Regions from separate parts of the Homo sapiens genome. Here region 2 is linked to region 1. Evidence: fine-mapped QTL for protein levels in blood plasma. A gene starts in region 1. The other region holds a variant in brackets. All regions are shown on one strand. Distances are from middle to middle.

Region 1 (9,056 bases):
GTGATCCACCTGCCTCGGCCTCCCAAAGTGCTGGGATTATAGACGTGAGCCACTGTGCCCAGCATATTTTCATTTTTTGAGACAGTGTCTTTCTCTGTTGCCCAGGCTGGAGTGCAGGGGCACAATCACACTTACTGCAGCCTCAACTTCCCACGCTCAAGTGATCCTCCTACCTCAGTCTCCCAAGCAGCTAGGACCACAGGTGTGTGCCACCATGCCCAGCTAATTTTTTAATACAGACAAGGTATCCCTATGTTGCCTAGGCTGGTCTTGAACTCCTGGTCTCAAGCAATCCTCCTGCCTTGGCTTCCCAAAGTGCTGGGATTACAGGTAATTCCCGGGTGCAGTGGCTCCCAGCTGGGGCTTGAATGTTGGCTCCATTATTTACCAGCCTCATGACCTTTGAGCAAATCTCTCAACCTCTCTGAACCTCAGTTTCACTAAATCTAAAATGGGGTTTATACTACTTATCTATCTTGCAGGGCAGCTACCAAGACAAAGAGAGATGAGGCATGTAAAACACTGAGCTCAGTGCCTGGCACATGGTAATATAAGCTAATAAAATGATTACTCAGTAACAGATTTGGAAAGTGAGGCTCAGGAAGGAACTGGCCCAAGGCCACATATCAAATTAGTAGTGAATTGAGAAAGAGAGAGGAAGGGAGGCCAGGCTGACGCCAGAGGGAAGGAGCAAGAGAATGGGATCCAGGAAGGAGGTTCGAGATCTTTCTGGGAGTGCGGAACAAGCAAACGACCTGTTTCCTCATCCTGTATTTACTGAGCACCACTAGGTGCCAAGCATGCCACTAGGCACTGAAAATGCAGTGGCGACCATGACCTTTCCACAAGGGTTTCTAGAGGTCTCTGGAACCCAAGGTTTTATGTCTCTGGTACGACATGGCTGCAGTGAATGGGGGAAGGTGCCCAGGGCCTTGAATGCTCACCCAGCCCACATTTTATTTCCAGCCTAGGTCACTCTTGACAATGCCCTCTGTGGACCACACACTGCTCCCTGCCCCCCCAACACACACACCACATTCACATGCACATGACAGGCTCAAATGGCATCATCATAGGCATCTGGGCCACATGCACATGGGGTGGGGGCTGAGAGGAGGTCAGTGCAGAAAGAGCTCTGCCAGCAACCTCAGAAGGATGTGAATGGGTGGGTACCTGGACTTGGGCAGGGACCTGAGCAGGGGAGGGCGTAGCAGTGGCTGCAGGCCTGGGGAACAGGTAGCCCCACATGCACCCAGGGCCACTCCCCATAGCTGATCCAGCCCCTCCCAGCCAGTCACACCCCCAGCACAGTCACATCATCACCCCCACCCAGCCACACCCCACAGCTTCCCAGCTCCACCAGCCACCCTACCACAGCCTGCCCCACCCACCACATCCAGCTCAGCAAGGAAAATCCTCCACATTTGCTTCCCAGCTGTGCGGGAGTTTCTCCAGCGTGATTACATCCCTGGGAGGCCGAGACCAGAAGCAAATCCCTTCCTCTGCTGGAATCTGCTACATGCCCCATCCCCCATCACCCCCACAGTGCTGCCTGGCCAGGAGCCAAGCTGCCGCCTGTCAGTCACCCCAGAGTCCAGGACCACCACCACCGGGAAAGAGACTGTTGGAGGTCTGGCTCAGAGTCGCAGGGCCACAGAGAGCACAGTCTACCCTGCAGTAAGCCCCTGGGGACACTGAGACCCAGAGAGAGGAAAGGACCTCCTGGCTTGTGCCGTCTGGTGTGCCCCACTCTCATTTACCTTGGTCCATTTTCTTGTCCATTAAAACCCTGTCCCTCCTCCTCCAATGCCAGCCTCAGCAGGGAGGTGAACAAGCCTGCTCTGGATTTCTAAAGTCCTGATTGAGCTCCCCTGCTCCACATCCCACCACGCAACACCAGGTATCAGTTGTTCTTGCAACTAGAACATGGGGCTCCCAACTTCACTGAAAGCTTTCCAAGGCACAAGCCATCTCCTACCCACAGCAGGTACTCAAGAGCCTTGTGCCCTTGCCAATTACCTTCCCCTCTGTGAATCTGCTACGCGGCATCTCCAAGCTAAATGCATTAATAACATTAACTTCCATTTATGAGACATGCCATGTCTGCGTTACATGCCATTATTTCAACCTTACCACAGCACCATGACCTAGATTCCCCCCATTATACGGATGAGAAACTGAGGTCCAAAGAGGCCAGTCACTTGCTGCAGCCCACAGAGCTAATAAGGGGGTGAATGGGAACTTCAGCACACAGCTGCTGGGCTCCAGAGCCTGGGCCCCTCATCCCCCATCTCCGCAGCCCCTCTGTGATCACCTAAGACAGCTAACATTTGCCAGATGCCCTGCACATCCCTTTCTCCATTCCTTTTCAATAGTTTTCTGTCTGTGTTTGTTTTCATCCATTTTATATGTGTTTTAGTATCACAAGCAGCCTCTAGTGATCTTTCTTGGAAGTAGCTCACAGATCATCCGTCAATCAACAAGGAAACAAAGCATTAAGCACTACTGGTTCACTCCCTGGTTCTCAACTTGTGAATCTGTTCTGGGTTCCCTGGCAGGGAAGGCCCAACAGAAAACCTCAGGAACTTAGACCTCACTTGTTGAGAATGTGTCCTTCTTCCAACAGGGCCTGAGTTGCGAGTTTACCTTTGTACCAGCTCTGAAAAAAAGGGCTTACCGAGCAAACATACCAGACAGCCTGGGGGTGGGGCTGTGTGGGGAACACGGCAGGTCACCTGCCACCCTCCCGTCCCAAGGACGGGACAGTCCTGACAGTCCCACTGAGGCTCTTCACGCACACCAAGGCTGTCAGGTCCATCACACAGAATGTTATGCAGTGGCCACAAATCTTCCCAAAATGGGGCTCTCTGCCCACCCTATCCCCAAATCTGCCTATGACAGAGTCAAATCCATCCAGAACTATTTTTTCCTTAGGCTCAGATCACAGACACTCAAAAGGAACAAAGCAGCATATCCCAACACATATCATAACCTCCCTTACTGGCGGCCAACGTTAAGCTCCTGCGAACATGTGGGGCTGTGCCAGGAGCCTTACCTGCTCCATCACGCTCAATCCTAACACCCTGAAAGAGGTGTCACTGCTATGAGCACTTTACAGACAAGGAAATGGAGGCTCAGAGAGGGTAAGCAACCGCTCGAAGTCACACAGCTGGGCAGAGGTGGAGCTAGGATGCCCCTCCCAGCCCACCCCACAGCCCCTGTTCGTTACCCTTCTGCAGTCCTACTTTCCACACCACTCCCAAGCCAGGTCTGCAGCCCAGGAGAGAGGCTTCCTGGAGGTGACCAGGCCCAGGGCTGCTGACCCAGCTTCTCTAGCTGAGCTTCAGCCTCCTGGGAAAGCCTGCACTGCAGAGAGGTGCACCATGGAACCCAGCAAGGCAGGACTTCAGCCAGAGGGTCCTCACGCCCCCATCAGACACCCCAATATAAGAAAGGGGGATGGCGGCTCGGGGCAGTGGCCCCTGCCTGTAATCCCAGCACTTTGGGAGGCTGAGGCGGGTAGATCACAAGGTCCTGAGATCGAGACCATCCTGGCTAACACGGTGAAACCCCATCTCTACTAACAATACAAAATTAGCCAGGTGTGTGGCACATGCCTGTAATCCCAGCAACTCCAGAGGCTGAGGCAGGAGAATCGCTTGAACCTGGGAGGCGGAGATTACAGTGAGCCGAGATGGCGCCATTGCACTCTAGCCTGAGCGAAACTCCATCTCAAAAAAAATAAAGAAAGGGGGGCCACCTCCTGCCCCAGGCAGAGGCCTCATGCTAAGGAAGAGGCAGGAGCGAGGGTCAGAAGCAGGAGATCTCAGCTAGCAGGGCACCGCAAAGGACAATGGTGAGCACCTCGCCTCACGGCCTGGCATGTGCCAGGCGCTCTACCAAGCACTTCCCAACCCTCACTTCATTTATTTGTCATTTATGCCCAGTGAAGTAAAAACAATTTTATCACACCCTGAGCTTCTCCCCTATCTGCCTCCCCTGCAGAGGAGCTGGGAAATGTGGGTCACCACTAGCCCCCACCCTCCCGCATGCCCGACTCCAGGCCTCAGATACACCCTGAGAGATTCCAAGGCACAGGCAGACTCAGGGGCCTCCATCTCAAGGATGCAGAAGCCAAAATCCATGCGGGCCTGGAAACCACAACAGCCTCCCAGTCCTTCCCTCCCAGTCATCCCCTTCCTCTCATCAGGGGATGAGAGGTCATTGTCCCCTGAATGAGCCAAGCTTCCCCAGCTTGTAAGGTCAGGCAGAATGCTGGCAGGAAGACAGAGGCAGGGGGTGCCACAGCCTCCATTGCCGCCTGTGAGTCTCTGGGCAAGTCCCTTCCCTTCTCTGAGCCTCAGTTTCTGCAACTGCAGTGAGGGGTATGGACTAGAGGAGAAGTCTGTGACCTTCTGGGGGTTATAGAACCCTTTGAGAATCTAATGATGGCTATTAGCAGATTCTCTCCCCAGACACACAAATTCAGAGTGGTTGTGACTGGCCCCCATCAAAAGCCAAGTTAAGAACATGGAAATTCTCTAGGGGCCCCTCTGGCTTTGACAAGCCATGGCTCTCACAGTCTAGACAGGACCAAAGCCACAAACACAACATCTGAGAGCCCTGGGATCTCACCATTTCAGCTTCCCCCGTGGCCCTGAAATAAATCTTTAAACTCTTGGACCTGCTGGCTTCAGGTGGATTTGTGGACATGCCTAGCTGTCTGGAGAAGCCACAGGAGAAACTGAGCCCTTCCTTCCCATCCCTCAGCCTCCTCCTCCTTCTCCTCCATCAGGAATCTGCCAGGTCAGCCTAGACCTCTCCCTGGGGCAGTTCCGGGAGCTGCTTCTGATCTGGAATGAAGGCAGGACCCAGTGCCAGGCTCAAGTGCCAGCCTGTACCCCCAGATCCCTCCTGGGGACACACACACACACACACACACACACACACTCAGATGGACCTGGAAGGACTGGACAGGGCAGGGGGCCAGGGACAGTGGTCAGAGTGGACAGGAGCCAGCGAGACAATGACCAGACCCAGACCCACCGGAGCTCCAGGCAGTGGCGTGAGGTTCCTCTTCACTTCGCCACGCCCTCTCGAATGTCCTCTCCTTAACACGGCTGCACCTAATCCCAGGGCCAGGAAAAATGGCATTACTGTTGGCCCAGTCCCCTCCCCAGGAGAAAGGGAAGGCAGAAGCAAGGGAGGGAGGTGGCCCTAGAGCACCCTGCGCCACCAACCACGTTCCTAGAAACCTCCACGCCCCTTCATGCCACCTCCCTTGTCAAGGCCTCCAGCCCCTACCTCCTTAACCTCAGAAAGAGGATGTCCTCCTCCGATTCTGCCCCGTGCCCAGGGAACCACTGGCACCTCGCCTGCCTCACCCAAGCCCTGCCTGGAGGAGCCTTCCACGGGAAAGGAAAAAGCATGTCCCTGACCCTCATGCTAGTGGGTCTTCTGACCCTCTCAAGAGAGGTAGCAGCCAACAGCAGGAGGAGCACTCACTGGCAATAAGGATAACTGGGTCCTGGTTCCAGCCCTGGCCCTTCCCCCTCCAGACCTCAGTTTCCCCACCTGTCCTGAGAAGAAGAGGAAGGACTGGTATGCCCAGCTGGAGGGAAAAGTGTCTATGATGCTGGCTTTTGGCCCCTGGCCCCACCCAGCTCAGCTGCCAGGCCCTTCCCTGTGCCCCACCCTGCAGAGAAGGAAGAAAGGTGACCGGCAAAGGTGTGGAGGGTGTAAGAATCCATGCTGGAGCCTCAAAGTGCTAGAGCTGAAAAGGGTCTTACAAAGACGAGACCCAGAGAAGAGAAGCAACTTGGCCACGGTCACACAGAACACTGGAAAAGGGCCAGGCTGGCCAGGGCTTGCTTCTTGACAGCAAATGCTTAAAAGCACCCAGCTGAAAAGGTATTTGCCTTCTTAGAGGATGCCAAGGAGAGCACAAGGCAACCTGACAACAGTAGAACTGCAGGCTCTGAGAGCTGCAGTTAAAAAAAAAAAAAAGGTATGTTTATACGTGGGGCTTAAGGATGGAGGTTGGGCTGGCTTTCCAGGCTCCTCATGTCACACCACGTGGGTGGCCAAGGGTCCTGCCAGCCACAGGGAAATCCTAGGAGCCCCTTCCAGGGATTAGCAGCTTTGGCCACCTCTCAAGAAGTCACCTAAGGCCCAGCAGGCAGGCCCAGCAGTGGTGACAGAAAGAATGGCTCAGATGGACACTCCAAGACTAGCCCACTCTGGAAGATGCCAGAGCCTTGGAGAGACTGAAAATCCCCCAAGCCCCGTGGCCAGTGAGGACGGAAGCCAGGTGGGCTAGGGATAACACAGAGGAAGGGAAAAGCTTTGAGCCATCTGGAGCCACAGAAGCCCCCTAATCTCCTAGAGGCCTGGTGGGTACAACACAGGGCCTGCTGAGACCAAGGAGGCTTCACCGAGGGCCCACATGAAAGCAGCCAGTCCCTGTAGACTTGCTGGGGCTTGTCATCACGACAAAAGCTGGCCACCAACACGCCTTGGGGTGTTAAGGGACTCAAAGTACTTACATGGAGGCGCAGCTGGCAGGGGGAGGGGGCAGAAGGTGGGGAGAGGTGGGGGCAAGTGGGCCCGGCTTTCTCTAGGACACAGACAACAGCTAGAGAACAGAAACGTGGAGCAAAAAGCACTGGGTGACCTACTTCACAGAGGCTCCTTTTAAAGAGGAATAGGAGGCCTCAGCGAGACTCTAAAAAGTACCTCGCAGGGGTCCAGAACAGTTCATGGGGCCAGGAGACCAGGGTTCCAGTCCTAGATCAGGAACTCACCCAGGACTAGGCTCAGGTGAGGCCCGCGAGGAGCCTTTTAGAAGGTGCTCACTGCCAGGTGCAGTGGCTCACGCCTGTCATCCCAACACTTTGGGAGCTCAAGGCAGGTTGACCCAGGAGTTTGAGACCAGGAGTTCAACACCAGCCTGGGCAACATGGCAAAACCCCTTCTCTACAAAAAAAAATTACAAAAATTAGACAGCGTAGTGGCGTGTGCCTATAGTCAGTTATATGGGAGGGCTGAGGTGCGAGGATCACCTGAGCCCAGGAGGTTGAGGCTACAGTAAGCCCAGATTGCACCACTGCACTCCAACCTGTGCGACACAGCTAGACCCTCTCTCAAAAACAAAGGTTCTTATTCTCCACAATGTGCAAGCACACAGCGGGCACCTCCTGAGACGCTGCACTTAGATGCCTCACTTGCCTCATCCTAGGCCCGGCCTTCTTACACAACCTGCCTGTGACCTCAGGCAAGTACCACTCCTTTCTCGGCCTCAGTTTGGTCACATAAAACAGAATCATGAAGCCAGGCATGGTGACACGAGCCTGTAGTCCCAGCTATTCAGGAGGCTGAGGTAGGAGGATTGCTGGAAGCCCGGGCATTCAAGGCCGCAGTGAGCTACAACTGCACTATGGCACTGCAGCCTGGGAGATACAGCAAGACCCCATCTCTAAAAAAAATAAAATTTTAAAAAACGAGTTAATTTAAAAAATTGAATCATGCCATATGATTCCATAGACCCTCCTAAATCTAAGCTGGGTTATTCTGTAGGGAGCATAACCGACCTCTGCAGCAAATCCCCGAAATGGGCACAGTGGCCCCAGCTTCCTGCCATCGATAACCTGTCAGTCACCACGTTGTCAGTGACCACGTTCCAGGCAGAATACACATTATACAACCACCTGATGCCATTATGTTCTGGGCTCTTTGTTAAATGCTTGGCCTCTACTTGATCATGGCCTCATTTTACAAATATGGAGCCTGAGGTCCACAGAGATTAAGCAACTTGCTTAAGGTCCCTGTTGGGAAGTGCTTAGCTGAGATTCGAACCAGCATCTGTCTGGTTCTTAATCCCCACATTCCATGGCATCAGCCACAGATAACAGAAAACCCACCAGGGCTGGGGAAATGCCATCAGCTCTTTGCACCTCCCACATTTTCTAGCATATAATGCCGGGGCTAATGTGAAGGCAGGCTGGTGGACAGCCGGGAGCAGGTAGGCAGGGATGGGGAAGTCCGTGTGGGCACTAAGCATTCCACAGATGAACCAGCCTCCAGCCCGGCCAGCTGCCCACCACTGTGGTTACAATGCCCTCATCGCCATCAGCACACCACAGCCACCGCTGTGCCATTTTTAAATCATTACACAGATGCAAAGCATTTTCACAGGCATTGCTGCGGTATCACATGCCAACTTTATTAAAGTATAGCAGGGATTTCTTCCCCCTTTCTCAGAAAAGGAAAGTGGGGTTTCCAGAGGATAAGTGGCTTCCCAACACGCACACAGGAACACAATGTTTGAGATGAACTTGGAGCCCACATCCTCTGCCTCCCAGTCCAAGCTTGGGTCTACTCCTCCATGCTCACGACTTTCCAGTTCAACCAACTGATGGGCCTTTGGGACAATGATGACCATTTCTGAGAGTTTACTTGGTACCAGGTGTTGTACTCTGCATTTCACACGTTATCCCATTTAACTGTCCTGACATTCCTATCAACTAAGTATTGCTACTGTTTTCATTTCACAAAGACAGCAGCTCAGAAAAGTAGGGTATCATGCCCAAGGTCACCAGGCCAGGAAGGGGCAGAGCTGGCATCCAAACAGAGTTCAGACTGGCTCCAGAGCCTGGGGCCTAAACCTCATGCTGCACAGCTCTGTCGGGGAGACTCTGTCACGGGCAGTCAGTGGAGGGGACAGGAGGTAGACACATCAAATAGTGTGTGCATCTGGCAGATTATGGCAAGATTACGATAATGGAGGACAAACAAAGCTCTTAGGGAGCCCACAAGAGGGAGGTTGTTACAAACGTCCAGGCAGAAGGCCAGGAGTCTGTGCAGAGGACACGGAAACAGAGGGGAGTGGCAGATATGAGGGAGGCGGCCTTGTGAGACCTTGGTCAAGTGCCTTGCTCTCTCCAGACCTCAATTTACCAAGCTGTTAAGAAAAGTCCTTGGAACATCTCCAGAACCCCCACCATCCCTGAAGACTCCTGGGCCCTGGGAAAATAAGCAATGCCCGGTGACAGCCTGGC
Region 2 (8,968 bases), 54 kb after region 1:
TGGGCCCAGGATCAAACCGAGGATCTGCCTCCGTTGGGTCAGAGCGAGGGAGACCTCTCACCCACCGCCCCCAAGGCCCAGGCCCCAACCTTTGATCTTACCTCCCACCCACCCCCTCCCCTCAGCACAGAGACTTCTCCCGAATCCCTGAATGATCCCAGGTCCCCTTTGATTCAAGACCTTTCCACGTGCTGTTTCGTGAGCTGGGAGTTTTCTTTTTCTTTTCTTTTTTTTTTTTTTTTTTTTTTTTTTGAGACAGAGTCTTGCTCTGTCGCCCAGGCTGGAGTGCAGTGGCACGATCTCGGCTCACTGCAAGCTCCGCCTCCCGGGTTGACGCCGTTCTCCTGCCTCAGCCTCCTGAGTAGCTGGGACTACAGGCGTCCGCCACCACGCCTGGCTAATTTTTTTATTTTTTTAGTAGAGACGGGGTTTCACCATGTTAGCCAGGATGGTCTCGATCTCCTGACCTCGTGATCCACCCGCCTTGGCCTCCCAAAGTGCTGGGATTACAGGCGTGAGCCACCGCGCCCGGCCTGAGCTGGGAGTTTTCTCCCACCCTCTTCTTCCTGTCCTGGCTGTCTCCTACTCCCATTTTGGGCCCTCCAGCAAGGCCCCTGAGCAAGCCAGAGCCCTCCGTATCCCCCGTTCCTTACTTTGTCCTTGTTTCTTGCCCATATTCCCTGCTAGACAAAGCCCCTTGGCAGCAGGCCGTGACACGGTCACTGTGTGGCGAGTGCTGAGATGACAGGTCCTGGGGCACACAGGGGCTCCCATCAGTTGCTCGCAGACCGCGTGTGAGTCCTGTGAGCACGGGGAGCAGGTGAATTACAGCCCTGGAGGACGAAGCCTGCCGGTCTCTAGAGGGGCATTGCTACAGAGGGAGCCATCTCCAGGCCTTTTGTAGCCCCTCCTCCCCTGGACCCTGGAGGGTGTGCACCTGGCCTAATCCCCAACACACACACCGCCGCTCTCCCTTGTGTGCCACACTTACACACGCAGACTAGCGCTCATGTGTGTTCTGGGGCTCAGACCAGCAATAGACCCATGACTCCACGACAGCTTCACAGCAGCCAACACTTTTGAGAAGGTCCTCCCTCCAAGTCCCAGGACCACCTGGGCCACAGTTGGTGTCTGATTCCTGGCTGTGTGTCCTGGTGAGCAAACTCACCCTCTCTGAGCCACAGCTTCTTCCCACCCTTCCTCTGTTGCATTTGCAAACTACCCTTCAAGGGGAGGAGGGGATAGAGCTCCTGGACAAATGACAGTATGAGCTGCTGCCGAGAATGGGGAGCACGGGGCCTTCCAGGTTGAGCTTGAGGACCCAGGAAAGGGCTTGGCTTCTGCTGCTGCAGGCTAATTCCTTGCTCTTCCTTCATCCAATCAACAGATATTTACAAAACACCTGTACCTGAGGTTACACGAATTGGGCTCTGGAGTCAGACTGCTTGGGCCCAGATCCTGGTGCCCCACTTAGAGCTGTTGACCTTTTCCTTGTGTCCTCAGTTATAACGGGGGGGATTAAACATTTTCTACCTCCTGTGGTTGTTGAGAGGAAGCTGCTTGCTTTCCACTTCCGGAATGAGAACTTTCTCCAGCTCCTGCTGCCACATTTGCCCCCACCGTCTTCCTTCCTCATTAGCACCTGAGGTGAGCTGTCCACATTCCTGCCTAAAGCCGATGCCTCCACATGCGCAGCAGAGGCCTTTACCTATTGCCTGCTCAATGTCAGGGCTCCAGCATGTTTTTCCTTCACTTCTAGACTATTCCCAGCAGTGTTAAAATATCTGTTATTGATGCAACCTTAAAAAAGGAAAAAAAAGAACCTCTTGATCTCACATTCCCATTCTCCATCTGCCCCCTGGCACACCTCTGCAGAAAAACTCAAGAGCTGTCTATGAAGGAACTGGGCATGGTGGCTCACACCTGTAATCCCAGCATTTTGGAAGGCCGAGGTGGGAGGACCACTTGAGCCCAGGAGGTCAAGACCAACCTGGGCAACTTAGGGAGACTCAGTATTTAAAGAAAAATGAGGGCCAGGCACGGTGGCTCATGCCTGTAATCCTAGCACTTTGGGAGGCCGAGGCGGGCGAATCACTTGAGGTCAGGAATTCGAGACCAGCCTGGCCAACATGGTGAAACCTCATCTCTACTAAAAATACAAAAATTAGCCAGGTGTGTGGTGCAAACCTCTAATCCCAGCTATACGGAGGCTGAGGCATGAAAATCGCTTGAACCTGGGAGGCAGAGGTTGCACTCAAGCCTGGGCAACAGAGTGAGACTCTGTCTCAAAAATAACAAAATTTTAAAAATTAAAAAAATAATAATAATTGGGCCAGGCATGCTGGCTCACACCTGTAATCCCAGCACTTTGGGAGGCCAAGGTGGGCAGATCATGAGGTCAAGAAATTGAGACCATCCTGGCCAACATGGTGAAACCCCTTCTCTACTAAAAATACAAAAATTAGCTGGGTGTGGTGGCGTGTGCCTGTAATCCCAGCTACTCAGGAGGCTGAGGCACGGGAATTACTTGAACCCAGGAGGTGGAGATTGCAGTGAGCTGAGATCACACCACTGCACTCCAGCCTGGTAACAGAGAGGGACTCTATCTTAAAATAAATAAATAAATAAATAAATAAATAAATAAATATTGGAAAGAGCTGTCCAAGAGGTGTGGACCTCCCTCTCTTACTCCATTCACACTTTTGCACTCCCCCCACCCAGCCCCCCAATCAAGCTGCTGTTGTCAAAGTCCCCAGTATTTCATGTTGCTACATCCAACGGTCATCCTTAGCCCTTGTTATCCTTGACCTCTAAGCGCGATGGCACAGGTGCACACTCCCTTCTGCTTGATTGCATTTCTCCAGTTGCCTTCTGGATGTGCCCTCTCCTGGTCTCCTTTCATTTCTGTTCATGGCTTATTTTCTTGGCTCTCTCCTTCTCTTATCCCCATGCTCTCAACGCTCAGTCCTTAGCCTCTTCTTTATCTACACTCAGCCCCTTGGCGGGACTCGTGATTAAAATCAGTCTTGTGATTTTAAATACCATCTGTATGCTGGAGACTCCCAAATTTACACCTCCAGCCCTGATCCACTTCTCAATTCCAGATTCATCTATCTCAGCTGTCATTCTGACAGCTCCACTCGGGTATGTAATAAACAGCTCAAACTCAGGCCTACGAGTGGGCATCTGATCTTCCCCTAAAAACCTCCTCCACCCTCTGCCTTCCCTACCCCAGCTGAGGGCAACTCCATCCTTCTGGTTCCTCCAGCCATAAATGCTAGAATCATCTTTGACAACACTCTTTTCCCATGCCCCATGTCTAGTTTAATCTATCAGTAAATCCTGTTGGATCCATTTTCTCATTTTCTTTTCTTTTTCTTTTTTTTTTTTTTTTTTTTTGAGACAGAGTCTCACTCTGTCACCCAGGCTGGAGTGCAGTGGTACGATTTCAATCTCTGCCTCCTGGGTTCCAGCGATTCTCATGCCTCAGCCTCCCGAGTAGCTGGGAGTATGGGTGCGCGCTACCATGCCCAGATAATTTTTGTATTTTTTGTAGAGATGGGGTTTTGCCATGTTAGCTAGGCTGATCTCGAACTCCTGACCTCAATTGATCCACCCACCTTGGCCTCCCAAAGTGCTGGGATTATAGGCGTGAGCCACTGCACTCGGCCACCATTTTCACTTGATCTTAGCCAAAAGGCCGAGAAGCTATCGGACCCCATTTTCAAAATAAAACCAAATATTAGCGACTTCTTTCTACCTCTACTGATGCCTCCTCCGTCTTAGCTACCAATGTCTTTCACTTGCTTTATTGCAAAAGCCTCCTAACCGTCATCCCTGCTTCTACTTTTGCCCCTCACCCCACCCCACAGAGCACCCAGAGTGCACCTATTAAAACAGAAGTCAGTTCTGTCACCCTCTGCTTAAAACCTTCCAGTGGCTCCACTCAGTAAAAGCCAATGAACTCTAAGGCCTACATGGTCTACACAATCTCTCTCCACCCCCAGTGACCTCTCGTCACATCTCCTCACCTGCCTGCCCTGGCTCACCCCATACCAGCCACCCTGGCCTCCTTGCTGTTGCTAGAACATGCCAGTCATACTCCCGCCTCTAGGCTTTGCACATACTGCTCCCTCTGCCCATAACCATCTTCCCTTAGATACCTGCAAGGCTGGCTCCCTCTCCCACCTTGTGGGGAAAAGAGAGATCAGACCATTACTGTGTCTGTGTAGAAAGAAGTAGACATAAGAGACTCCATTTTGTTCTGTACTAAGAAAAATTTTTCTGCCTTGAGATGCTATTAATCTGTAACCCTACCCCCAACCCTGTGCTCGCAGAAACATGTGCTGTGTCGACTCAAGGTTTAATGGATTTAGGGCTATGCAGGATGTGCTTTGTTAAACAAATGCTTGAAGGCAGCATGCTTCTTGAAAGTCATCATCAATCCCTAATCTCAAGTACCCAGGGACACAAAACACTGCGGAAGGCTGCAGGGACCTCTGCCTAGGAAAGCCAGATATTGTCCAAGTTCTCCCCATGTGATAGTCTGAAATATGGCCTTGTGGGAAGGGAAAGACCTGACCGTCCCCCAGCCTGATACCCGTAAAGGGTCTGTGCTGAGGAGGATTAGTAAAAGAGGAAGGCCTCTTTGCAGTTGAGGTAAGAGGAAGGCATCTGTTTCCTGCTCGTCCCTGGGCAATGGAATGTCTCGTTGTAAAACGCAATTGTATATTTCATCTACTGAGATAGGAGAAAACCGCCTTAGGGCTGGAGGTGAGACATGCTGGCGGCAATACTGCTCTTTAATGCACCGAGATGTTTATGTATGTGCACATCAAAGCACAGCACCTTTTTCTTAACCTTGTTTATGACACAGAGACATTTGTTCACACGTTTTCCTGCTGACCCTCTCCCCACTATTACCCTATTGTCCTGCCACATCCCTCTCTCCAAGATGGTAGAGATAATGATCAATAAATACTGAAGGAACTCAGAGACCGGTGTCATCGTGGGCCCTCCATATGCTGAGCGCCAGTCCCCTGGCACTCTTTCTCTATACTTTGTCTCTGTGTCTCTTTCTTTTCTCAGTCTCTCATCCCACCTGACGAGAAACACCCACAGGTGTGGAGGGGCAGGCCACCCCTTCACCACCTCACAGCTCTGCTCAAATCACTCCTCAGCAAGGCTGCCTGGCCCTCTCTGTTTAATTCAGCCACCCACCCCACCCCTTTCCTCAGACCTTCAGTACCCTTCGCCCAGCCTGACTTTTTCTTTCTTCTTCTTCTTCTTTTTTTTTCTTTGAGATGGAGTTTCACTCTTGTCGCCCAGGCTGGAGTGCAACAGCGCGGTCTCAGCTCACTGCAACCTCTGCCTCCCAGGTTCAAGCTATTCTCGTGCTTCAGCCTCCCAAGTAGCTGGGATTACAGGCACCTGCCACCACCCCCAGCTAATTTTTGTATGTTTAGTAGCGACGGGGTTTCACCATGTTGGCCAGGTTGGTCTCAAACTCCTGACCTCAGGTGATCTGCCCACCTGAGCCATGCAAGGTGCTGGGATTACAGGTGTGAGCCACCACACCTGGCCAACTTTTTCTTCTTTCCACAGGACTGACCACTTTCTAACAAAATAGGAAGCTTACATAGACATTATGTCTGCTCTTCCTTCCAGAATGTAGACTTTGAGAGGGTAGGGACCATTGTTTTTGTCACTGATGTATCCCAAGTATTTACAATGTCAGACACATCCTAGGTGCTCAGTGAGTGCTCCCTGAGTGAGTGTGTGAGCTCTGAGAGGGGAGGGTAAGTACACCCCTGTGCTGGCAGTGTTGACAGCGCAGGGGTGCGGTGGGGTGGGGAACGCAGACATGGCAACAGTGAGGTGAGGCCCCACGGAAAGTGGCTGTGCTGCCCCTCCAGCCTCAGCCCCCATTCCTCTTCCCTTATTCACAACACCCCAGTACTACTGGCCATTTTTTAATTCCTTGAGTTCTCCAAACACCTACCCACTTCAGGGCCTTTGCATATTCTATTCTCCCTGCCCAGACCATTCTTCACACCTTCACGTAGCTAATTCCTACTCTACTTTCAAGTCTCAGTTCAAATGCCATGATTGTATCTCAGTGCCTGACAAAGAGTAAGCGTCCAATAAAGGTACAGGTTTTTGGCTGGGTGCGGTGGCTCATGCCTGTAATCCTAGCACTTTGGGAGGCCGAGGCTGGTGGATCACCTGAGGTCAGGAGTTCAAGATCAGCCTGGACAACATGGTGAAACCCCGTCTCTACTAAAAATACAAAAAATTAGCCAGGTGTGGTGAAGGGCGCCTGTAATCCCAACTACTTGGGAGGCTGAGGCAGGAGAATTGCTCGAACCCGGGAGGAGGAGGTTGTGGTGAGCTGAGATCGTGCGACTGCACTCCAGCCTGGGCGACAGAGTGAGACTCTGTCTCAAAACACAAAAGATACAGGTTTTCATTACACATTTTAAAAATATATATATTGGGTCTCACTATCGCCCAGGCTGGAGTGCAGTGGTGTGATCACAGCTCACTGCAGCCTTCACCTCCCAGGATCAGGTGATCCTCCCAAGTAGCTGGGATTATAGGTGCAGGTCACCATACCTGGTTAATTTTTCTATTTGTTGTAGAGAAGGTGTTTCACCATGTTGCCCAGACTGGTCTCCAACTCCTGAGCTCAAGTGATCCTCCTGCCTCAGTCTCCCACAGTGTTGGAATTATAGGCGTGAGCCACTGAGCCCTGAAGTTTTCAACATACATTTAAAAATGTACTATTATCGGCCAGGCGCGGTGGCTCACATCTGTAATCTCAGCACTTTGGAAGACCGCGGGGGCTGGATCACCTGAGGTCAGGAGTTCGAAATCAGCCTGGGCCAACATGGTGAAACCCCGTCTCTACTAAAAATACAAAAAAAAAAAAAAAAAACTACCCGGGTGTGGTGGTGTGTGCCTGTAGTCCCAGCTACTAGGGAGGCTGAGGCAGGGGAAGGCAACAGTGAGACTCTGTCTCAAAAAAAAAAAAAAAAATGAATAAAAATAAAAATATGCTATTATCATCCCATTTCACAGATGAGAAAACTGAAGCCCAGAGAGGTTACAATTTTTGCCCAAAGAACCATAGCTAATAACTGCAGAAACAATAAATATGTTGATTAAATAAAGTGGAGTTTGAAAGCAGTGACTTTGATGGTTTCTGGGATAAAGATAGGCTTCCCTGTGGAAAAATTTGTCCTGAGGTGATTGTGTGGGCTGCCTTCAGCCATAAGATCAAGGCTTGCTCCCTCCATGAAGCCACATGAGGTTTGGAGGTCTGTTTAATACAACTCTTAATCAAAGCGGAACTCACTCCACAATACTCCAGTCTCTGCTAACATACTGGGAAGCTCATTAAAACAAAAAAGCCCTCTCCTTCAAAAAATACAGACATTTCACAGAAGAGATGCAAATGGTTAAAACAATCCGTAAAGAGATGTCTGACGTCACTCATCATCGAAGAAATGCAATGCAACGAGAAGGTATGTTGAGGCTGGGTGCATTGGCTCACGCCTATAATGCCAGCCCTTTGGGAGACCGAGGCGGGTGGATCACCTGAGGCAGGAGTTCGAGACCAGCCTGGACAACATGGTGAAACCCCGTCTCTACTAAAAATACAAAAATTAGCCGGGTGTGGTGGCGCACACCTGTAATCCCAGCTACTCGGGAGATGAGGCAGGAGAATCACTTGAACCCAGGAGGCGGAGCTTGCAGTGAGCCAAGATGGCGTCACTGCACTCCAGCCTGGGCAACAAGAGCCAGACTCCGTCTCAAAAAAAAAAAGAAGGTATGTTGAGTTTTTCAGTTTAGCAGAATAAATTTTTTTTTTTTTTGAGACAGGGTCTCGCTGTGTCACCCAGGCTGGAGCCACGGGATATATTTATATATTTAAAATATATTTATAATATTTATATAGTATGTAATACAAAAATACTATATATATTCCATATAAATATTACATATAGTACATAGATAAAATGTATCTACCGCTTGCCTAGCTCTGTGAGGTACACTTCTTGGCCCTTCCCCACAGCTCCGACATATTCTCCCAAGCCTTCAAGGTCCTTCAATATTGTTATTAGAGGCTGGGCACGGTGGCTCACGCCTGTAATCCCAGCACTTTGGGAGGCCGAGGCAGGTGGATCACGAGGTCAGAAAATCCAGACCACCCTAGTCAACACGGTAAAACCCCGTCTCTACTAATACACACACACAAAAAATTTGTCGGGCGTGGTGGCACGCGCCTGTAGTCCCAGCTACTTGGGAGGCTGAGGCAGAATAGCTTGAACCTGGGAGGCAGAGGTTGCGGTCAGCCGAGATTGCGCCACTGCACTCCAGCCTTGGCTACAGAACAAGATTCGGTCGAAATATATACATGTATATTGTTATTAGAGGGCTATGTGGAAGTAGCTATTAAACACGAGGGCTTTGAAGCTAGAATTCCAAACCCTTCTGCAAAGGTGTGCTCTCAGTTAACATCCTTTATCTGTAA[G/A]AGGGAAATCAAAATTATTTGATAATGTCTTGAGGAGTAAATGAAGCAATGCATATAAACTGTTTAGCCCAGACCGGTCTGAAAATACATATTGAATAATTTATTCTTATTTTGCCCATTATATAATATGCCAAAGTAAGTGATTACGGTGTGTTTTCCCCGACTATGTTGCCTAGGCTGGCCTCGAACTACTTGGACGAAGCGATCCTCAGCCTCCTGAGTAACTGGGACCACAGGCCGGCGCCACCCTAGCTTTAATTAAGGCCGTTTTGTTGTTGTTATTCCCCTGCTCCACACAAGGGGCGCTGCCGCTCCAAGGCTGCCAGGGCGGGAGTCAGGATGGCGGAAGTCTGTCTAGCCACGACCACCGCCATCATGGAATACAGGCCCACCTCACCCCGCGGGTGTAGCCGCTTCGTACTGTCGCTTAGG

The links. A credible set is the group of variants that fine-mapping cannot tell apart. PIP is the chance, under the fine-mapping model, that this variant and not a neighbour inherited with it causes the effect. Protein levels are from the aptamer-based SomaScan assay of Sun 2018.
Region 2: its variant is the best candidate, but not a certain one, in a credible set for the plasma level of the NDST1 protein (Sun 2018, PIP 0.55).

Annotation. Positions count from the first base shown.
Region 1 is chr5:150,504,217-150,513,272 of GRCh38, reverse strand. It overlaps NDST1 (N-deacetylase and N-sulfotransferase 1), which reads right to left and starts at 5,142. Exons shown (of 15, transcript NM_001543.5): 1 at 5,047-5,142. RefSeq lists enhancers at 630-1,283, 2,585-3,158 and a silencer at 1,372-1,666.
Region 2 is chr5:150,449,940-150,458,907 of GRCh38, reverse strand. No RefSeq gene overlaps it. Among named protein-coding and RNA genes, the nearest start is that of RPS14, 4.7 kb to the right of the region's middle. RefSeq lists silencers at 1-6, 4,566-4,766 and enhancers at 8,781-8,968, 8,714-8,968. The variant G/A (reference allele first, on the strand shown) is at 8,537.